Linked DNA regions of Homo sapiens: region 1 is linked to region 2. A link means that fine-mapping ties the variant in region 2 to the expression of a gene that starts in the linked region. Tissue or cell type: lung. Region 2 holds a variant in brackets; the other region holds the start of a gene. All regions are shown on one strand. Distances are from middle to middle.

The links. PIP is the estimated chance that this variant, and not a neighbour inherited with it, causes the effect. A credible set is the group of variants that fine-mapping cannot tell apart.
Region 1: TFPI starts here. The variant in region 2 is the best candidate, but not a certain one, in a credible set for the expression of TFPI in lung (TOPMed, PIP 0.72).

Annotation. Positions count from the first base shown.
Region 1 is chr2:187,551,095-187,556,490 of GRCh38, reverse strand. It overlaps TFPI (tissue factor pathway inhibitor), which reads left to right and starts at 2,056. Exons shown (of 8, transcript NM_006287.6): 1 at 2,056-2,291.
Region 2 is chr2:187,484,516-187,489,911 of GRCh38, reverse strand. TFPI (tissue factor pathway inhibitor) reads left to right here. Exons shown (of 8, transcript NM_006287.6): 4 at 1,537-1,575; 5 at 4,925-5,101. The region is part of intron 2 of CALCRL-AS1 (CALCRL and TFPI antisense RNA 1); the gene reads right to left. Among named protein-coding and RNA genes, the nearest start is that of CALCRL, 39 kb to the right of the region's middle. The variant C/TGTAC (reference allele first, on the strand shown) is at 2,577.

The DNA of each region.
Region 1 (5,396 bases), 67 kb before region 2:
CTTCCTAGATGGGATGGCGGCCGGGAAGAGGCGCTCCTCACTTCCTAGATGGGATGGCGGCCAGGCAGAGACACTCCTCACTTTCCAGACTGGGCAGCCAGGCAGAGGGGCTCCTCACATCCCAGACAATGGGCGGCCAGGCAGAGACGCTCCTCACTTCCCAGGCGGGGTGGCGGCCGGGCAGAGGCTGCAATCTCTGCACTTTGGGAGGCCAAGGGAGGCGGCTGGGAGGTGGAGGTTGTAGCGAGCTGAGATCACGCCACTGCACTCCAGTCTGGGCGCCATTGAGCACTGAGTGAACCAGACTCCGTCTGCAATCCCGGCACCTCAGGAGGCCGAGGCTGGTGGATCACTCGCGGTTAGGAGCTGGAGACCAGCCCGGCCAACACAGCGAATCCCCGTCTCCACCAAAAAAATACGAAAACCAGTCAGGCGTGGCGGCGCGCCTGCAATTGCAGGCACTCAGCAGGCTGAGGCAGGAGAATCAGGCAGGGAGGTTGCAGTGAGCTGAGATGGCAGCAGTACAGTCTAGCTTCTGCTCGGCATCAGAGGGAGACTGTGGAAAGAGAGGGAGAGGGAGACCGTGAGAGGGAGAGGGAGAGGGAGACGGAGAGGGAGAGGGAGAGGGAGAGGGAGAGGGAGGAGAGGCGAAACTTTCAAGAAAGAAAATCTGATTGGCTGAGCTTGCCTCTACCTGAGCTACAGATTCCTCAAAAGTTTAATCAAGGTCCATGGTGGTACCAAGAAAAAAGGACTTTCCTCTACAATCTGAGTGAGATGATAGCTTTGATTGTGGTTGAGGGGCAGGGCATGAGGTAATAGGAGATAAGTTATTAACATGATATGAAATCCAGAACATGAGTGAGAAGGCAGCATGGAGGAGGATTTATGCATTTTTGCTCTAAAGGCAGACTGCATGACATTAGAATCACAGCTCCACATACTGAACTCGATCTTCCTAGACATGTGAAATGGGCATACAAAGAGGACCTTCTTTATAAGCTAGTTGTGAGAATTAAATCGATAATTTATGTTCCAGTCACCACCAAATAATTATTCAATATGTATTAAAAACACTCAAGATGAAAGGTTACCTTTTACAGAGAGGTCTAAGGAAAGCAAGAAAAATTGAAGGCACAAAGAATCTGAGATGCAGAAGCAAGAAACTCCTACATTTTCTGACCAAATGTCTTCAGCCTTCCTGGCAAAGTAGATTCTGCCCATTTATTAGATCTCTAGTGATCTTAGTCTGATATGACCATAATTCCAATACAGAGACAGTACGGATGAACCTCAATGATAGGGACATACAGCAGAGACTCTGGTTGACATCTGTAAATATTTACATATTTTGTAGAATAATAATAATAGAAATACAGAAAACAGCGATAATGATAGCCAACAATTATTGGAGGTTTGCTACATGCTGGGTCCTGCCTTAAGTACTTTTTATGTATTAAGCCATTTAGTACTTACATCAAGCCCAGAAACTTTTATTATCGACATTTTAGGAACAAAGGAACTGAGGCATAGTGAATTCAAATAACTGGGCTGAGTAGCCAAGTTAGCAAGTAGCTAAGGTAGGGCTCAAAGCCTGACACCTGCAATAGATAATGCATTACATTGTCTCACTAAGAGAGACCTCCAACGGTAGCCCTCAGACTTTTAAAAAAAATAAATACATTGACAGTGGGTGAAACAAATGAAATAACTTGAAGAAGAAACAAACTGCAAAAAAGCTTATTAACAGTGTAATAATAAATATGTAATTTTTTAAACCCTAACTCTAGGGGGAAAAAAGCATTCTTTTTCAACTGATTACAAAAACAATCCTGGAAAGTAAAGGAAATAGCTATTCAAAATGATCGTATCTGAAATCTTGGTGTAAGCTGTTTCCTTCATCTGTTTCCTCCACTAAAAAAAAGAAAGAAAGAAAGAAAAAAGAGGTTTAGACTAAATAGAGTCAGAGTTGCAGTGACCTAAACAGGAAGTTGGGCTATTCCCAACTGCCAGTGATCTCTGAAGCCGACTCTGAGGCTCCCTCTTTGCTCTAACAGACAGCAGCGACTTTAGGCTGGATAATAGTCAAATTCTTACCTCGCTCTTTCACTGCTAGTAAGATCAGATTGCGTTTCTTTCAGTTACTCTTCAATCGCCAGTTTCTTGATCTGCTTCTAAAAGAAGAAGTAGAGAAGATAAATCCTGTCTTCAATACCTGGAAGGAAAAACAAAATAACCTCAACTCCGTTTTGAAAAAAACATTCCAAGAACTTTCATCAGAGATTTTACTTGTGAGTACCTGGCAATATACTGTCTAGCCCATAAGAAATAACTTTAATTTCTTTTTCTCGGGGGAAAAGCAGGGTGCTGAGAGGCAAAGAACTGATAGGGGAGGATCACTGTTTATTTGCGTAAAATGAAAATCAGCCCTTCCCTGTAAACAGAGTAAACTCAAACTGCAATCCAAACTTGAGTTCTCAGCATTTTGCATTTAGTTCTTAAGCAAATTTATGTGCAATTTTTATGATTTTAAACCATAAACATTTTTGTAACTAATTGGTGTATGTAGCTTTTTTATAATTTGAAGATTGTAGTAGAATTCTTTACTAATTGTGCTTGGTTAATTGGAAGTTCTTGAAAGTTCGGTTTACCTTTCCATTTTATTTCATAACATATAAAATAGAGACTGTTATTCTTCTATTCAAATAATCTTTCAATACTATTAGTTGATGATATTTAAAATGAGGTATAACCATTAAAATAATCGTAATCTAAATGGAATATTTTATGCCAGCATTAACTAATCTCTCTAAGGAAATATTTTACAATTCTCCAAAGACCAAAGGTCATATTCTGAGATACTTAAACGAGAATACTTACGATCAAGTCTATGTTGTGCAATTTTGTAAATTAAAACAATAGATAACATGCCTACATGATGTACTGTTATGTTCCTGTTATAAAATGTTTGCTTCTAGTGAAAAATGAAAGCATATAATACAGCAGTAAACAACCACAGAAATATAATGAGAGAAACAATTATTTAATTATGAAAAAGCACTCATTAGTATAAAATAATTACCAAAAATAAGGGCCAAGAGTACTACCATGTGGGAAAAAAGAAAAGATAAGCAACAGCCACACTGTGACTCAGTGCTCTGGAAATTAGTCACAAAATGACTTTGTATAACATGAGATAATATAAACACAAAGGGCAAAACTCAAGCAGGAAACATACTGCCCAGAGAGTCATATTTCATGTGTAAAAGCATAATATTTACATGAAAGGGGGAAAGTTGTGACAATTTTGAGAGATACTGCAAAACTTTTGAATAAAATGTGTTAGGGAGGCAAAATCTCCCTAACACATTTTAAAGATTATTTTAAATCTATCATTCTAGTGCATGATTATTTCAATATACAGTGTCCATATCTCATCTAATCCTTAAACTAAAGAGGGATAGTCCCTGAAATTTGGCTGAGTTTGAAATGTTAATTTGTGGCCTACAGCTTAATAAAATTATATGAAATATAATTAGGGATCAACAAAGATTGAAAAATATTAATGTAAATACAGATAACTAATCAAGTAATTTTAAAATAAGAGTAAAACTTTAAAATATTTATTTTTACTGATTTGAGTAGTTATATTGGAAAACCAAGTTTTTCTACTTCAAGTGACCACAGAATCTTGTTGGAAAAGTTTAATGACATATACTACTATTTGATTCCTATCTCTATTAGGTATACTGAATTGGACAAGTTTTTGTTTTGTTTTGTTTCTTTGTTTTTAAGGTACAGTCTGATATCTTTTGTTTTACCACCAATGACTAAATCAAAACTCCTTTGGAAATGTGGTTCCTGTCCAAATGGATTATGTTATCAACTGGTGTTTGATGGTCTGACTGATTGTCCATTTATCAGTCAGATAATCATTTAAGGAAATGATTATCATTTGCTTGTTGATTGTACAACTATTTTGACTTAAATCTTCTGTCATAAAACTTATTGTTAAATTAATAATACATAAAATGATAACATATTTTGTAATAAACTCTAATTTTCAAAACAGCTTAATTATCTTAAAAATTAATTTTCTAATCTTTAGAAATCTTTTGTTTACATCTTTCAAATTCAAGAGGTAAGTGGGCAGGATGGCAAACTAATGGAGAAAAAATGCCAACTTTAGAGACTTAATTTAATGCCAGAGTGCCTATCCATCTAACCAAATAGTAAATATGCTATCAATTCCTTAGGAATGGTTGGCTGATTAAATTCAGTGTCACAAAATTTTAAGGTATCTTTCAACTGATATCTCTACCTAATACAAGAAAAAAAATGCAAAGTAAACATCCTTACAAAAAATAAAAAGGAACAGACAATATGAAAAGTGAAGAAAATTACTTAGACTAGGATTTTCAAAAAAATCTTATCAGTATAAATTAATTAAATTGAATTATAATATAGGTTAAAATGGGTTAATTATATCATCAATTTATTTTTTTCTATGTGGACATGATCTAAGAATTGTACTACAATACAACTCATCTATTCTCAATAAAGGCCTTCTACAACCAGCCATCCTTTTTTGTTTACCATCTATAGCAATTAACTCATTTTAGGAATTAAATTTGGCAGGCTGCCTTTTTAAAACACAAATATATTTTCATGCATTAGTGTCAAAGGTAGATTCTGCTATCTTTTATAGAAATATAGCAGTACTATAATTCTTTCTGATTGCTACAATGTGCATTAGGAGAAACTTGAATTCAATAGACATGTGTTTCTGGATATCAAATCTCACCAGAAACAGGGAAGTGTTCAAGTGTTTCCAGCAAGTTCTCTTCATAATAGACCATCTTTCCTGGCTTTCTGAAATCCTCACTGACTGCTTTCTTGGTGTTATGTATCAATTCCGGGGGCCCAGTCTTCCCATTACCTTTCTCTCCCTGTCTTCACTTCTCCAAGTGTCAGGTGCCAAGTAGAACCACAGCCTGAGATTCAACTACCAGTAGCTACCAGTTGCTGAAGGCAACTTCTTCACCTCTACTTTTCTTCTTCCTCAAACCGACAATAACAGAAAGTATGGGCCCATGTCAAATCCACTGTTTTCTCTTTAAGCCTCTATTTGGGATGCTATGTCCTCTCTTAGTTGGAACAACCAGGTGTTAAAATTACTTCAAAAACAAAAGAATATAAGGACATCATGGCCCATAATAGAAGTTCCAATGCTGCAGTACAACTATCCCAATTGTTCCATGTGATGGACCACAGGTCTCTGTGTAGACTTGGAATTATTGCAAGGAATTACCCAGTCAATATGTGAGTAAAAAATATTATATATTGCTTATTAGGGCATAAGAAAGCTATTTCAACATCAGAAATGTGAAAGTATT
Region 2 (5,396 bases):
AATTTGCTGTAAATCTTTTCTAACTATTAATCGCTTTCATACTGCTATTGCCATACAAATTATCGTGTCCAAGGTTATTATTATTAGTCCTCAAAGACAATTATTGGTAATATAAATACACTTAAAATTCTAGTGTGCTAAACCACATTGAGTTAATTGGCATGTATATTACCTGAATTAATCCTATTTACAATGTAACAGTAAACAAACAAAATAGATGTTCTTTTAAAAATTGTATTAATCAAGCATTTATATATTCCCATCTTATGACTATTGTCAATAGGTAAATCAGGAATGAAAATTGCTTAGTGTTCTAGTCTTATGTACTCATTATATGTATACATTTCTTTCTTCTTATCAATTAAATCATATTAGTTTTATATCTAAATATTTTAATGTCAGGTTATATGACAGTCTACAATCTAGTTGAAAACATTAATATGAAGTTGGTTAGTTGCAGTGAAAACAAAGTAAACCAAAAAACTTACCTCAATAGATACAGCTATACATATACACACACACACACACCTCTTTTTTTAAAAGGCTATTGAATAAAACATAGTACAATTAGAAAAGAAGTTTGGGTCCGTTAGTTTCACTTTCATAGACATTTTACTCTCCATAGAAGAATTAACTATTTCAAGAAAAAAAGGATGATGCAGTTGCTGAAAGAGGCTTATAACCCAATTCATATTATTTCTCTCATTCTTTCTTCCCTTCTCTCTCTCGCTCCCTTTCTATCTCTCTGGTCATATAACGAATGCTAACCTGCTTTGACCAAAGATTTTCTCTGCAAAACAAATAATTCCACAACAAAATAAATACCACTCAACTTTCCTAATGTCTATGCGAGCAAATTAAAACTTCATAGATTTATTTTGTCAATTTAAATTTCATTACCTATCATTTAAATTAGAACTTAGAATTCATACTTGGAATATGGTAGGACAAAGACAACTAACATTCCAGTTTTAGAGGGAAATGATTCCGTTAATCAAATGTTAAACCAAACAACGTGTCCCAGATGCCTTTTGTTTCATTTCTTCTCTACATTGGTAATAATAATGAAACTTGCAATTGGATTGAGACAACGAAGCAGGGGAAAGAATAAGGAAAGGAAATAATTCTGGTTAATTTCACTTTTATTCCCAGTTATCTAACAAATTATTTTTATATGTAATGTAGGCTGCTTGAATTACTTTCATATTTCACATTTTTAAAATAATTGTTTTAAGTATAGATATCCTGAACAGTAAACATAGTCACTATGAATTCTCAGCTTTGTAAGTGTGTTAGAAAGTTTTATCATAGTTTCTAAAACATTACTCTATTGAAATGAAGTGGCTTCATGGTTACAATAAATAGAAAAGATTAATTTTTAGAGAAAAGAAAAAGAAATTCAATTTTTATTAAGACATTCTGTATAAGAATAATTTTAATGGTAATAAATATGTCACTCTTGTTTGTTAAATTCAAATTCATAGTATTACTTTATAAATTGTGACAATTGATATGCATATATTCTTTTGATTACAGATAATGCAAACAGGATTATAAAGACAACATTGCAACAAGGTGAACATTTATTTGTCTGTAAATTTGAAGCATTTATGTAAGGCATTTAGATATTCAATTTTTTGTTTGTTTGCTTGTTTGTTTTTTCTGGTCCCTGATTCAGTATAGATATTCAATTCTTAAGTTTCTCTGAGATTGATTTAAAAAAATCCATAAAAGAGATTGATCATAAACCCATATGACAGATTGATCATGTCATTTTTGAAATGATTTGTTGCATGATTCAATGGACATAATCAAAAATTAGGAAAATATATACATTATATTTGTCAGAGGAGGCTCCAAACACCGTATTTACTCTAATTCTAATGTAGTATGATATTTAGTTTTAGTTCAATCATAGTCCAGAGCCACACATGCTATTTTAACACCTTCCAGATAGAGATTTAGATATTTTGAGTCTTAACTTTATTTCTCTGATCTCTAATCACTTGTTAATCTAATCAACATTGTGTGGCTTTAGCAAGTTTCACCAAATATTCCCTTGAATGGATGTATGTCTCTGAGTTGTCAGCAGTTATACATGCAAAAGTAAGTAGAGATATTTAAAAATAAATATCTAGCATGTATGTGTATGTTTAATTGTGTAATTTAAATCATATCATTTATTGTTTTTAGCTAAAAATAATTACTTTTTCACAAATATATCAGCACAAGAAAAAATGTTATCAATGGATCAGGGAAACCAACGTCCTTTTAATAAAGGCCTGGAAACTGATTTGGTCCAATTGTCAGTTATGGCATTTACATTTCAATGAGAAAATATTGAACAAAGAGATTAAATTGTTTAACTCAGGACATGAAAGACCGCAACATGAAAGACCACAAAATTCAAAGTGCATTTTAATTTTATTTATTTTGATTTATTTATGTGGGAAAGAGTTGAAAATTTCTGTGACACATTGATAATCTTTAGGCTCAATTCACTGACCAGAATTGGAATCAAAATGTATAAAATAAAGATAATAGCAAAGTTTGTACAAGAAACATAACTAAATGTA[C/TGTAC]TTACAATTTTAAAAAATAGATTCCTATAAATATTAAAATAATCTTGACCAAAATGTTTAGTACTTTAATTAAATGAAGGCCTTATCTGTAATATCAAAATGGCATATTTATAATAAAGAAGTTTTTGTCTACAAAGGAGAATAAATATTTTTGTGAAAGAAAATACCAACCTTTAAATATTAGGACCTTTTACCAAAAACATAAAATTAGAGAAAAATTAAATACAGGTACTATTTTTAGGTAAAATTATGCTATAAAGTGTATATTTATAATTCAGAATTCAATCATTCTTATCTCATATTATATATGAAAGTTAGAGAATAAAGCTGTGTTCACATGAATGTTAAAAATGCTTACATGTTAACACCTATTTGTAACAAAGACTTGATCAATTTCGAGTGAACTTTGTATTATGCTTCCTAGCATTGGACCATTATAAAGAGATTTGAGATTTAATACAATCCCTTAGAAAGAAAGTTTGGTCCAAGACAATTCCCAAGTATTCAGGCCCAAACAAAAGTTGACAGTGATAATGCTTTAGCTTATCCAGTCTGCATTCTGTGTTACTCAAGTGCAACTGAGCACCAACTTAGAGCAAGGGTTATGTATGCAAATTCAATAAGAAGGTTAATTTATTTACCTGAAGAAAATGGGAAATTAATTTTTTGATTTGCAACTGTAGTTTAAACTGCAGGCCAAAAAAAGAATTATTTTACATGTGTCCATTTTCAACTTTGTCTTCACATAAGTTCATGTTTCCCAATGTAGTTTCATATGAAAAATAACAACTTTCAGTTGTACAGTTTATTGTTTGTTGTGGTTTTGTTTGTTTATTTTTAATTTTTGTGGGTACATATTAGGTGTATATATTTATGTACATGTATAATTTCTTAATTATACTTATCAGCATAATTTTTTATACCTTTATGTTTTTTATATGCAATATTTTTCCTCCATCCACTTTTGGCAAACATAAAGTTCTTGTATCCTCTGTTCAGATCATTTAAAATTTCATAAAAAGTACACATTAAGACTAAAACAAATCATATGATAGTAATTCAATGTATTTTTACCTTATAAAATGTTATAACATTTTAAAGAATTGTTTTATTCCTTTCCCCCACATATTATTACAATTAACTAAAAATCATAAAAACATTCATTTGAAAGATCAAGAGGCAATACAGAAGAAACAAAGTTAACTTTCAAATTAATACATTGAAAAGTTACAGAAAATAGACTTTTAAAACTATATTATAGTAGGAAGTTTTACTTAATAAAATAACTTTTCAATAAGGAGTTTGTTCTTTTGCAGATCTGCAACTGTTGCAGAAATCATTAACATTATTAAATACATGTTCTTTTTTATTGTAAAATACTTGTGGGTATTGCTTCCCTGACATAGAAGAACAAGTTGCTTTAAGATGAAAAAAGGTTACCACAGTTCAGTTTTGCCAATATGGTAATATACTTGCAGGAAAAAAATTGAGAAATTGGAATTTTGTTCTAAAAATTCAAGCCCAATACGCCTGTGAGCATAATAATTTTGAAAATTAGCTCACTTCTTTTCACAGTGCATGCATGTAGACAGAGCTGGTGATGTAGATCACAGTGGCACAACTTTTATGACAGCTGTGTTTAGCCTGCTTTGGAGCACTATCAAAGAAGAAGTATTAGTCTTTTGCAAAAGCCTCTCCAATCCTTGAACATGTATTTCCTTTCTGCCTCTGCATTATTGAAGTCATTCCAATGACAAGAAGAAGGAAAAAATAAAAATGACACAGCAGTAAAGGATGTCCTACCTAGTACAGATATTAATTCCCGCATAAGAATTCAGGAACTTCTAAGGCTAGCCATGAAAACTTCCTACCCCTCAAATATTCTTTTTCAACTTTTAAAAATTTAAACCATTCTTAATGGAGCAACGCACTACAATGCTTTTCCTGAGAAGCCACCCTCAATAGCTTGAAATGTTCATAGACCTTCCCTAAATGTTAATACACATGAACATATTAAAAATAATTAAACCACATTTTTGCCATAATGTTTTGTAATTTCAAAGCAAGAGTGGTACATGGTAAAATAATCTTTTATTCCTTAAATTTGTAAAAAAATGACAGTTAATTCCCTATTAATTTACTATGAGAAATTTAGAATTTGAAATGCCAATCCCAAAATATGGTAGATAATTTTAATAGTGTATATTTATGGATAAAGTTAGATTTTTACTTTTTAATTTTTATGCTTACTCCTTCAATAACTTAGCCAGGTATTTATAAATTTTATTAAAATCAGTAATTTATTTACACAAAAGAATATTGCTTTCTGACATTTTTATAATTTCTAGAAAAGCCAGATTTCTGCTTTTTGGAAGAAGATCCTGGAATATGTCGAGGTTATATTACCAGGTATTTTTATAACAATCAGACAAAACAGTGTGAACGTTTCAAGTATGGTGGATGCCTGGGCAATATGAACAATTTTGAGACACTGGAAGAATGCAAGAACATTTGTGAAGATGGTCGTAAGTTTATTTCTTATTTCATTTTAGTTCATTTATAGGCATCCTTTTAAAACTAAGGCATCTCAGATGGCATTCTATACTCAGGTTTTGTTTGAGCCATGCAAATGAAGATATATTTGTGTGCATTCAATGTGAGATTTGTGACTGTAGTTTTTTAAAAAGCACAGAAAATTAAGAAATTATTTTCATAGATCTAATACTTTTTATGTTGCATTATTTAATTCTTCTTCCTGAGAATACTGCAGTACAATTTTGGCACAATAGAATTGCTGAAATCTTTCACATTTATACAAAT